Regions from separate parts of the Homo sapiens genome. Here all the other regions are linked to region 3. The links come from fine-mapping of genetic effects on gene expression. A gene starts in region 3. Each other region holds a variant in brackets. All regions are shown on one strand. Distances are between the middles of the regions.

Region 1 (4,160 bases), 250 kb after region 3:
CACTGCACTCCAGCCTGGGTGACAGAGCAAGACTCCGTCTCAAAAAAAAAAAAAAAAAAAAAAAAAAAAAAAGAATTTCAACAAGGCATAAACTTCATTATCCTGATGGGAGCCTTGGGAGCTGCTGCCAGGTTGCTGCTACCCAAATCTCATGGGTATTTTGGAGACTAAAGCGTTGAAGACACTTTCTTCTATTTTCTTTCAGGATTTGAGCTGCCTCTTTGAATTATACTTGGAGCCACTTCAGAATGAGACCTTTCTTACCCAAGATGAGGTAAATAAAATCACCTTCCTTCTGTCCAGTGATCCACAGGTTAGTCTCTGTTTGCCTTTTAGCAGAACTCCTATGAGAGTATCTCTGTTGATCCCAAAAGAACATCCCAAGACTTAACGGTCTTCTGAGAGTCCCAGGCATAGCCTCCTCCTAAACCACTGCTGTGGCCTCGGCTGCATGACCCAGTGGCAGAGTGTTTACAAAGGCAGAGGGACGGTTATGGTCTTTTTGAGGTAGAAGAGAGTGTGATCAGAAATTCCTTTTCAATACATACCTTTGTAATGTGAAACCACATAATTAGTTCTACTGACTTACATTTTTCTTAATTTGAATTCTGAGAATTTTACATCCACTTAAAAATTTACTGTAGTAATAGAGAATTATGGGGGATGGAGCTGTGAAACTTTCTATGTATAAGCCATATCCCATAATGAATGTGCTGTCTTCTTAAAGGATTTACTTTCTGTCTGCTTTTCCGTGAAGAATTTCCTTGTGATTTATTTGTGGGCCTAAGAGTTAGCGTGGTGTCCTGAACTTCATGGCTAATCCCCTCATTTCAAATCCTGATCTTCACATAGATGGAGTCACTTTTTGGAAGTTTGCCAGAGATGCTTGAGTTTCAGAAGGTGTTTCTGGAGACCCTGGAGGATGGGATTTCAGCATCATCTGACTTTAACACCCTAGAAACCCCCTCACAGTTTAGAGTAAGTATCTCAGATTTAGGCTTAAAGTAAAAATACGTGGCTATGGTACGTATTTCTCTCATGAGAATTCTCTCATGAGAAAGAATTTCTTGTCCTGTGACTATTGACTATTTATTGTCCTGTGACTATTTCCTTGCACCGTTTTCCTCTGTCAGGTGGTAAAGGAAGGCTGTATATATTTTTTTTTCCTGGCGCAGGTGCTTTTGGTAGTCAGAAGTCCAGCAGCACCTCCCGCCTGGTTGTTGACCACGTACGTGCTCTTTTCTCAGCTGCTGTGAAGGATATCCAAGGTGGTTGCTTCTGAAACCAGAGCTCCTACCCTGTGCCCAATCCTTCTTCCCCGTGGTCATGTGGATCTGGGATTAAGAGAATAGGTTTCTAATTGCTGGGCTCAAGCCCTCTCTTCTATGAAGCACCAGTGCTCCATAGCATCCGTGTAAGCCGCAGTGTGGCAGGAAGCCCCTCCAAGGGGACCTGGAACCATACAGACAGCATCACTCTCCCCAAGCAATGCAGAGTCGGCTTTATTAGTGAACCTCTCTCAGATTGTTTATATCCCACCTTGTCAGCTGTATTTTTGTAGAACTTTCTTTGTTTCTTGTCCTTGGATTGCACACTGTCAGTAGGCTCTGCCGCTGGAAACTTTGCAGTCAAGCTAGATACCTGCCAGGGGAGCGCCTGGGCTGTTCCCCACCTCCTGTGTGGATGGAGCAGGTTTGAACTTCTCCAAGGCATTAGTGCTATGGAATCTGACAGAAGCCATGGGGCCGTCAAATGCCATAAGCCAGCACGCATTGATTAAACCATGTCTGATTTGACTTTCCCCTCTGCCCTTCTAGAAATTACTGTTTTCCCTTGGAGGCTCTTTCCTTTATTACGCGGACCACTTTAAACTGTACAGTGGATTCTGTGCTAACCATATCAAAGTACAGAAGGTTCTGGAGCGAGGTAAGTTGCTTATGCCTTTTATAGTTTTTTTTTTTTTTTGCATTTTTAACTGTTAGTAAAGGGTAAATCTGTATTTAACAAGTAGAGAGTAAGTACAATTTTGATGTATTAAGGTCCATCCTTGACCTTGACAGTGGCAAATATTAAAGGGAAAGGTTTCTGTTTCTGTCAGTTAATTAGTAGCTGGGAACAAGTATGCCTAAGAGCAGAGATGTTGCTTTGCCATGTGTCACTTTGCTGTCAGTTACATCTGGATTCTTTTCTTGCCAAATTCCTTTCTCTAAAAACTTGCAACCCCAAACCCTAGATGGGAGTAGAAAGAAATGCATGCTATGGT[GT/G]TTTTTTTTTTTTCCTTGTTAATCTTCTTAAGCCTGAGGAGCCACAACAGCCTACCACGAAACTCACAAGAAGTGTGTCAGCTGAAAGTAAAGTCTCTCTGGTGCAACTGGAAAGAGCTCACATTTCCCAAAGGTTGCTCTTCGGTGTTTCTCTCTGCGTGGGCCTGGAGGGCATCTGGAGGTTTATCCTGACGCCCTTAGTGCTCATTCATGTCCACGGATGCAGCTCTGCCATTGGATTTTAATCCAGAACGTCATGATATCCCAGAAGAAAAGCCCCACATTTAAAAAGTGGGGTCTTAGAGTGCTTCAAATGAGCAAGACCCAGCCCAAATCCATCTTCTCCAGTTGCTTTAGACAGTTGCTGAACTCTGTTGCCATTTCCTCCCACAAACACCCTCTTTTTAATTAAATTTAATTAATTAATTTTAAAAATGTAAAAATGTTCGTAGAAATGGGTCTCACTGTGTTGCCCAGGCTGGTCTCAAGCTCCTGGCCTCAAGTGATCCTCCTATCTAGGCCTCCCAAAGTGCTGGGATTATAGGCATGAGCCACCACGCCTGGCCCACAAGCACCTTTGTATTGACAGTCTGTAGTACAGTGAAAGCATACCAATGTACTTGTCAATACATATTGACAGTCAGTGCAGTACAGTGAAAGCATACCAATGGCTTGCTCCATTCCTCCTTTGTCATAAAGAAGAGGGGTCCTGTCACCACCTACTTGGCCTGGTAATCACATTCAAAATGGTATTGCATCTCCTAGAATGTTGTAGATTTTGATCTTACAACACAATCCCAAATAAGGGTGTATCTTCCTTCAGAGTAGCTGCATTCCAAGCAACTGGGCATCCAGTGCCAACTGGTGGAATCCAAGTAGCACTGGTGTATCCGCTGGTACCCAAACCAAATGCACCTGGATTCCTACACACACCCTTCATGGCACTCAGACAAAGGGGCAGTTTTCACTGCCAGAGAGGGTCCTACTGCCATGCCTGTTGGAAGGGAGCTGTGGCTCTAGGTATGCGAAAGGTGAATCTGCTTGGAGCTGTGGAGTGAAGGCTGTAGGCTGCAGGCTGTGGTGCCTGTCACCTTACTTTACAGGAGAAAAGACACTGCTTTCCAGATAACCCTTAAGTGTACAGAATACAAATAAGCAACAACTAGAGTGAGGCCAGTGGGAAAAACACTGGTTTATTTTCCTTTATGAAATTTTTGTGGGTATGGTGTAGGGTCTGGATAACATTGCTTAATGGCTTTTTTGATGTTGTTTTTTTTGAGATGGAGTCTCACTTTGTTGCCTAGGCTGGAGTGCAGTGGCGCGATCTTGGCTCACTGCACCCTCCACCTCAGGAGTTCAGGTGATTCTCCTCCCTCAGCCTCCTGAGTAGCTGGGATTAGAGGCGCCCACCACCACGCCCGGCGAATTTTTGTATTTTTAGTAGAGACGGGTTTCACCATGTTGGCCAGGCTGGTCTCGAACTCGTGACCTCAGGTGATCTGCCCGCCTCAGCCTCCCAAAGTGCTGGGATTACGGGCGTGAGCCACCGCACCTGGCCACGCTTCATGGCTTTTAATGAATTGTTTGAAACTCACTTTTTAGGCCACCTATAACAATATTTCTCATGGGTATGCATGAAATGTGTCTTTAAAGTCAGACATTCCTGCATTTTGAGTCAGTGTTAGTCTTTGGGGCGCAGCCTGCATTCCATCCTCGGAAGCTCCCAGCACTCCAGGGCTCTGTCAGGGCTGTGAGGCGGAATCCCACGCTGACAGCTGGGTGCCTGACCCACTGATGTGTTGGGGTTTTCATTAAAGAATGGCATTAGGAGGACTATAGAAATAGATGATCTATAAATGTTAAAAGAGAAATGAAGAATTTAATTCACCCCACTGT
Region 2 (4,160 bases), 230 kb after region 3:
GGCTGCCTGGAAGGCCCTTTGGCAATGGAGAGCTTGTCCTGTAGAGAGGGATGAACAACAGAGCGTGGCAGGAAGGCAGTGGGAAGAAACTTGCTGGTGACCTTTCTCGCCATTTCTTGCAACTGGCCCTTCCCGTCAGCTGGGCTGATTCCTCCTGCCAAGTGGGTCCTTGGACAGAGGCAAACTAAAAAGTGGGCAGTGGGGCTGTTGGCATGGTCTGTGCTGTGGGCTAACTGGGGCCAAAGAGAAATTGCCAGCAACAGGAAGTTGCCTGATGAGTCCTCAGCTGGCTGTGCCTTTGCCAGGCAGGCTTTTAAAACTCAGACATGGGGTGTTGAGTTATTGAACGAGACTTTGGCTGGGGCTCAGAGTCTGCCTGCAGCTGTGGCAGAGGGCCTGTGTTTTCTCTATTAAACATGGAATACACGTATGTCTAGGAGCAGAGTATCATGCAAGGCAGGGGGACTTGAGCCTGGCGAGGCTGGTCTGGAGGCCTGGCGGGCTGCACAGTAAGAACCCCAGGAGCCCTGGGCCAGCCTGGCCCCACCAGTGCTTGTGTCTCCTGATCCTGATCTGGAAAGTAAGGATGATGGCACCTAGCACACAGTGAGGTTGGAAGGATGCAGGGAGGTCACCAATTGCCCTTCTTCCCCTTTCCTTTCTGTCTTTGGATCACTGAGGCACTTTCGTCAGCACAACTGGCTTCCCAGCCTCTTTTTTTTTGGCAGAGAAGAGTTTAATGAAAAAATAGGGATTTGCATTACAAACTAGGGACAAAAAGAAGACATCGTTTTAAACTTGAAGTTATAGAAAATAATCAAGCGTGTCTTACCTCTTTTTAAAATTATTATTATACTTTAAGTTCTGGGATACATGTGCAGAATGTGCAGGTTTGTTACATAGGTATACATGTGCCACGCTGGTTTGCTGCACCCATCAACCCATCATCTACCTTAGGTATTTCTCCTGACGCTATCCGTCTCCTAGCTCCCCACCTCCACTACAGGCCCCGGTGTGTGATGTTCCCCTCCCTGTGTCCATGGTTCTCATTGTTCAGCTTCCACTTACGAGACATGTGGTGTTTGGTTCTTTCCCCTGCTGTTTTCTGTGCCACAGTACTTTCCTACCTGCCTTCCTCTGTCCCTGCTTTCTTCTTTTCCAGACTTTTCTCTTTCATCTTGTTTTTTTTTTTTTTTGAAAAAAAAAAAAACAAAAAAAAACACAAGTTATTATTCAGAGTCATCTTCAGAATCACAAAATAAAGAAGTAAAAAAGAGAAGTTTTAGAGAGCAGCGCTGTGAGAGCTGCAGTGTGAATCACTGCGCTGGGGTGGGCTGGAGGATCAGGGCCTGTCAGGTGGAATGCTGGCTCTGAAATTAACTTGCTGAAGAGATAATGACACTCCCGTTCCTCATCCTGCTGGGACAGTGATGCACAGGAAAGTGACTTGGAGACTACTCAGAGCTGAGGCCACACAAAGATTTGACTGAGCAGAGATGCTGATCTTCACCTAATGCTTTATTTGCCACGTTTATTTC[T/C]GATACAGGCTTCTCCTTTTTCTCTCCATTGAAACAGCGGGTGCCATGGTTTTGCTCTCATCCTGTCTGAGATGACACTTGAAGTGGGATATGTTTGACCTTTTCAAGGCAAACAGAAAGCCAAGTTCAAGGAGTCATCAGCCAGCTCCCTGCAACTTAGGTGGTCGTAAGGGACCTCTTGCCAGAGCTGCTTGAGGTCTCCCCTTTAATTTTGTCCACCTGGATGACAGTGAAGATGGGGTTGAACGGCAAGTGTCCCATGTCTGTCCTCTTTCTTCCATCTTCCCTCTCCATGCCCCTCAGCCCTCTATTTCCAGATCTTTATTTCCTTTCTGGGCTTCTGAATTAGAGATGGAGCTATGGAGACCTTGATATAATTTTGCTTTCTGTGGGAGAAGAAAGCAGGAAGTTTGATTTCTCAGGCCAAACTAGCCTCAGTGTAAATACCATTTGCAGGTTCTTGCCTATTCTTCTTCTTATTTATTTATTTATTTTTGTTTTTTTGAGAGGGAGTCTCACTTTGTTGCCCAGGCTGGAGTGCAGTGGCGCGATCTTGGTTCACTGTAGCCTCTGCCTCCCGGGTTCAAGCAATTCTTATGCCTCAGCCTCCTCAGTACCTGGGACCACAGGTGCACGCCACCATGCCCAGCTAATTTTTGTATTTTTACTAGAGACGGGGTTTCACTATGTTAGCCAGGCTGGTCTCAAACTCCTGACCTCAGGTGATCCACACTCTTCAGCCTCCCAAAGTGTTGGGATTACAGGCGTGAGCCACCACACCCGGCCTGTTCTTGCCTATTCTTTGGGGAAGCCACCTCGACATGGGGTACACTCGGAGTAAGAACACATGGGTTGGGTGGGCGTGGCTCACGCCTGTAGTCCCAGCACTTTGGGAGGTTGAGGCTGGTGGATCACTTGAGGCCAGGAGCTCAAGACCAGCCTGGCCAACATGGTGTGACCCTATCTCTACTAAAAATACAAAAATTAGATAGGCATTGTGGCTCGTTCCTGTAATCCCAGCTACTCGGGAGGCTGAGGCATGAGAACTGCTTAAGCCCAGGAGGCAGAGGTTGCAGTGAGCCAAGACTGCACCACTGTACTCCAACCTGGATGACAGAGCAAGACTCTGTTTCAAAAACAAAAAACAAACAAAAAAAAAAAACACAAAAAAAACCATGGGTTTTTTGCCCTAAGTCTTACACTGAGGAGCCGTTTCTTCATCCTTGGGTAAGTTGTCAAACTTCCCTATCTGTGAAACTCAAGGGTCCGTCTGACCAGCTGTCCTGCCCTGATGTCTCTCCCTGTCTGTCTTTCTGCCTGAATGCCTGATCCAAAGCAGCTTTCTGCTAGATATCCCTTTTTATCCCCATGAATATGGAGAGCTGCTTAGAAGAAGAATCTTAGCAGAACCCTATTAGAATTTGCTTCGGTCGTTTATTGTCCTTCATGCATTTCATTGAAGCTAAAACCTGTAAGATTTTTGGAGGCTTCTCAGGTAATGGTATGCGAAGGTCAGGATGGTTAGATACCGTATTTCCAGATGCTCTCTGCTCTTTTATGCACTTACGTTATTTAGGAACTTATTTCAAGCAGACCATTTGAGAATCTGAGGAAAGCTATGGGTCCCCAGAAGATTGCTTATGCACATACGTTAGAAATTGCAGACAATTCCAGGGAGCTCCCCAGTCTTACGATGTTTATTCACAGCTTTCCCTGTTAGGAATTTATGAACCGTCAGTTTGTGATCCTTACTTTGAGTAAACATCTGAATAGCCTAGCCTGTGTCTTAATATTATTGATATTGCAGAATCAGTTATCAAGTACCTGCAATATGAACAGCACTGTGTTTATATAGTCAAGTGATATTTTGAACTTTGTTTTTATCTTAGTCTAATTGCTTGGGTGAGATTAGCTATTAATGCTTTATTTTTTTAATGTGCTAAGAGATGTTGAGGAACGTTAAATAAATAACAACCCCTAGATGGCAAATAAATTATTAGGTTGAGACCAGAATAGATTATATTGATGATGGTGGTTAGACATCCCCAGATTTTTTTTTCTTTTTTTTTTTTTTTTTACTCTGCACTTCAATGGATGCAAACCCAGGTTGTTAAACACCAATCGCAGCATTACGTGCTGGGATGTTTTGGCATTTTGAAAGTTTTATTTTCTATCATTAGTGAACAAAATGGGTTTTTTTTTGGAGTAAGAATTTTAACATTTTGATCCCAAACCAAACTTTTATGGATCTCTTTAGTAAAATAAATAGCTGTCTGATGGACTAGGAGGGGTGTTTTTTATGCTCAGCGTAAGGGACGCTCAGGTGGCTGTGGCTCCTGTGTTCCCCGGCAAGGGCGTTGCCAGTGAATTTCACCCTTCCCCTTTCCATGTCAGCAAATTAGCTAAGCCCTTGTTGTCGTTCGCCCTTTTTCTTTTAAAGAAGTAATAGGCACAATTACTATCTAATTTTGGCTTGCCACTGTGTGGGTGCCTGGAATCTCATCCGATCTTTAATATTTACCCAGGGGGGTGGGTGTAGTGTCGCATTATTCATTCACTCATTAAATCCCCTTCACCGAGGCCTGCTCAGATGCTTGCCATTGTTCAAAGTTCTGAAATCGT
Region 3 (4,160 bases):
ATTAGAGCCATCTGGGTTCTATATATTTTTTCAAGTTTGTACAACAAACATGTTACTTTTATAATCAGAAAAATATTTTAAAATAGTGCGAAAAATGCAATAAAAGAAGCAAGAAAAATAAACACATACCAGCACCCCCCCACCCCCCGTCTCAGTGTGGTAGGTGTGAGTCAGAAGTAAGAAGTAAATAAGTGTTGGCCGGGCGCCATGGCTCACACCCTAATCCCAACACTTTGGGAGGCTGTGGGCAGATCACTAGAGGTCAGGGGTTCGAGACCAGCCTGGCCAACATGGTGAAACTCCGTGTCTACTAACAGTACAGAAATTATCTGGGTGTGGCGGTGCATGCCTGTAGTCCCAGCTACTTGGGAGGCTGAGGCAGGATCACTTGAACCCGGGAGGTGGAGGTTGAGCGAGCTGAGATCGTGCCGCTGCACTCCAGCCTGGGCGACAGAGACAGACTCCATCTCAAAACAAAGCAAGCACCGCCCCCCCCCACCCCACCCACAAAACAGTAAATAAATGTCAAGGAAGAAAAGGTCTTTGGAGGTGATGCTTGAATTGAGCATGGAAGAGTGAGTGGAGTGGGAAGATATTTTCCTAGGCAGAGCCAAGTGCGCAAAGATGCAGACAAGACCAGGGGAGGGCCTACAGAGTGGGAGGGGCCAGTCACTACTAGTTCGGTGTGTACAGAGCCTGTGGTGGTTGAGGGTGGAGAGCAGGTCTGTCCGATCCCCGCAAAGCCTGGAGGCTTCCTTTTGATACTGGGTGTGTTGTGGGAAAGCTGATTTCATTTGTCTTTTTGACTCACAGTTCTCCACGGATCTCCCGTTACGGAGACTGGGTCGTATTCACGCACTGCACCTAACTGACCAGGGCCCTGGCTGCTGTGCTCTGAACTCCAGCACTGGGATTGTGCCCAACGCCACCCTTCCCACCTGGCCGCTCCCAGCCAAGGACTGGTGGCGGCATGGACACGAAGGCAGGCAGGTTCCGGGGAGAATCGGGATCCCCATGATGCGTAATTTTGGCTGAAGGGCTCACGGATGATCTTGCTGAGCTTTTCTTAGACTGCAGGGAGGCCGGGATGGGTGCTTCCCTCCCTCCTTCACTTGGGCTCTGATTTGCAGAAGGTCCGGCCCTCTCCAGCTCTCACGGCTCCCTCCTCATTTAGTTCCACGGCCATTTCCCCCAAGAAAACCCTCCGCATCTAGTCCTGAGTGGGCGCTGCTTCTCGTAGGACCCACCCTAACACATGGCCTGCATCTACCTTCCCTTCCCTCTCCTCTCCAGGGTGCAGCCTTTTTCAAGGCGAGGAGAGTGATTCCAGGCAGCTTTCATTCCTGGGTCTCCTTAGCTCCCTCGCCCTTCCCAGCATCTGGGCCCACTGGGCCACTCAGGCTTTTCTAATAAAAATCGCAGCTTTGGCCCAGTGCGGTGGCTCACGCCTGTAAGCCCAGCACTTTGGGAGGCCGAGGCGGGTGGATCACCTGAGGTCGGGAGTTCGAGACCAGCCTGACTAACATGATGAAACCCCCATCTCTACTAAAAATACAAAATTAGCCGGGCGTGGTGGCGCGTGCCTGTAGTCCCAGCTACTCGGGAGGCTGAGGCAGGAGAATCGCTTCAACCCAGGAGGCGGAGGTTGCGGTGAGCCGAGATCACGCCATTGCACTCCAGCCTGGGCAACAAGAGCGAAACTCAGTCTGAAAAAATAATAATAAAAATCGCAGCTTCTCCACCTGGAAAGTCCCAATTCGACTGGGTCTTGGAGTGCCGACTCGATTGCCATCTCCGCTGCGAAGCCATCTCCTCTCAGAAGGGGAAGGAGATGGAAAGTCTCTGCGGCCGCTGACCTCAGTTTTGCGTGCCTTTCCTCGGTGGGACCCGGGAAGAGCCGTCTTTAAATTCCTTGGGGAAGGGACGGGGTCGCACTGGCGCATCGCATCCCCGGTAGCGGGCAGAGCCCCCAGCTCACAGTGAGCGCGTGCTCGATGTTTCTTGAATTGTTTTATTTGTGTTGTTCCAAAGAAAGCGCGAGGGACATGGTCCGGGACCAGCCGGGAGCTGGCGCGGGGGTCCTGGGCCTGACGCTGGGCGGGGCTGGGGCGTGTCCGGGGCGGGGCGGGGCGGGAGGTGCGGTCGCGGCTCGGGCCTGGCAGGCGCTGCGCGCGGGGCTGGGGCAGCGGTAACCGTAACTGTGGCCGCGGCCGCCGCAGGCGCACAGCGCGCGTCCAAGTGGAGAACAAAGTGACCCCCAGAACTTCTCCAACTCCTCCCGGCGTTCCCGCGAGGGCCACGCGCCGAGGGTAGCGGAGGGCGGCGCGCGACCGGCCCCACCGAGCCCGGCGCGCGACCCGAGGTAAGGGGCGCCCGGGTGAGGGCGCAGGAGGGCGACGACCCGCGCTGGTTGGCGGCGGCTCCAGGTCCCCTGCGGGCGGGGCGGCGCGCGGCCGGCGGTCCCCTCCCTTCCCCTTTGTTGGCCGCCCCTCTCTGCCCCCGCTTTCCTGGGAGTCCCGCGGAAGGTCGCGGCTGCGGGGCGCGGCCTGGCACCCTCTCCCCGGAGGGCGGCAGCGTCCGGGCACAGCCTGGCACGGGGGACGAAGCACTTTCCAGAAGGCTCTGAAACTAGGTCCCCTGGTCCCCTCGCGCTGCGCGACACGCCAGGACCCACTTTCAGCCCCGGTCCCATCCCGGATGGGAGGAGGCGGCGCCCCGGCCTCCTGATACCGAGGTTCTCGCCCAAAGCCGAGCCGTGGGTGCCCGGAGGGGAGCGCCCGCTGCGCCCACGCCCGCCCGGCGACCTCGGAGCCTCAGAAAGGCGCTGCGGCGAAGCAGGATCCCAGGCGGTCGGCTCAGCGAGTGTAGACCGTGCGGTCCCTGCTCAGCCCCTCCGGCCTTTCCGAGCGCGGGAGCCATCCCGGACGGGCGCGGCTCCTGGGGGGGCTGAGGTGCCAAGTTTCTGTGAAAGCCGACACGTTGTGCCCCTAATGGATCCTATTTACCAAAAACAGTTCAGAAAGAAAAGAGTCCATTCTTCCAGCCATTCGTTGCTGACAGCCGCTGGAAAGGTCTGGGAGTAACATTGCACGAGGTATTTCTATCTTTAAGGAGCGGCGAAATTTAATATTGATGAGCTTGCATGCCGTTTTTTTAAAATAGACAAATAGGTTAACTTTATTTAAAGAGGGAGAAGGCTGCTTGATTCCAAAGATAATTTCATTCAGGGGGAGGTTTTCCTGCTTTTCTCTGCAGAATTCAGGCAAGAGGCCACTTGGTGACACTCCTCAGCCTCCTTGGGTAATGGTGAGACCTTTATTTACTATGCGATGAAGGGCCTGGGATTCTCTTCTCATGGTTATTCACACATTCTACCTTTTGCTCCCCAAATGATGCTGACCACCTTATTTTAACAGACAACACCGGCTATCTCCAGTTCTCTTTCCAATAGATTTAAGCCAGAGTGTCTCTAAAATCTTACCAAGTTTCGTACAGGTGCGGATCATATGCTATAAATGTTTCAGTCCTAGGCTCTGGATAAAAAAGTGTCCATGGTTTTATAATTTGGGCTTAACCAGTAGAACTTGTGTGTATACACTCTTAGAAGTATTTCCTGATGTGCTTAAGATTGTTATGTTTTAAAAATATAGTATCATGATTGGTGCAGTTTTGTAAGCAAACTTTTGTTCCACCGGATTTTACCTGCTCACTTTATAGGAAAATAAAACTTGTTGCTTTAGGGTGTCAGAGGTTTTTGTGTTGGGTAAATGTAAAAGAACATGGCAAGGTATAACTGAAGAAGAGTTTATTATTTACTGTGGCAAAACACGCCCCTAATGACCTCAGAATCAGCTTTCAACACCTTCACATACCATACTAAGATGCTTCATAATGTGGCACCTGCCTGCCTTTCCAGTTCCATCTACTGACTTTCCCCAGGCCTCCTGGCTCTCCCCCGCTTGCACACTGCCTGCTCTAGACACACCAAGCTACTCAGAAGTTGTTATTTCCAGACCATTGTTTGGAATGAATGAAATTCTGCTTACACTGTTCTTACTCCTCTTGCCCATCTGTCAATTACCCACGCATTCTTAATGTGTCAGTCAAATACCTTCTCTAGGAAGCTTTTCTTCCTTATCCGTAGGCGAAGTTAAGCTCCT

What was found.
Region 1: its variant is fine-mapped to the expression of TIAM2 in neutrophils (BLUEPRINT, PIP 0.95).
Region 2: its variant is fine-mapped to the expression of TIAM2 in whole blood (TOPMed, PIP above 0.99).

Annotation. Positions count from the first base shown.
Region 1 is chr6:155,243,806-155,247,965 of GRCh38, forward strand. It overlaps TIAM2 (TIAM Rac1 associated GEF 2), which reads left to right. Exons shown (of 27, transcript NM_012454.4): 17 at 206-274; 18 at 853-978; 19 at 1,818-1,926. It also overlaps a transcript of TFB1M not described here. Among named protein-coding and RNA genes, the nearest start is that of CLDN20, 18 kb to the right of the region's middle. RefSeq lists an enhancer at 3,530-4,160. The variant GT/G (reference allele first, on the strand shown) is at 2,264.
Region 2 is chr6:155,219,930-155,224,089 of GRCh38, forward strand. The region is part of intron 15 of TIAM2 (TIAM Rac1 associated GEF 2); the gene reads left to right. Among named protein-coding and RNA genes, the nearest start is that of CLDN20, 42 kb to the right of the region's middle. RefSeq lists enhancers at 516-1,015, 3,825-4,160. The variant T/C (reference allele first, on the strand shown) is at 1,539.
Region 3 is chr6:154,993,131-154,997,290 of GRCh38, forward strand. TIAM2 (TIAM Rac1 associated GEF 2) reads left to right here and starts at 2,185. Exons shown (of 27, transcript NM_012454.4): 1 at 2,185-2,362. RefSeq lists enhancers at 2,079-2,686, 2,687-3,292 and silencers at 2,133-2,272, 2,363-2,442.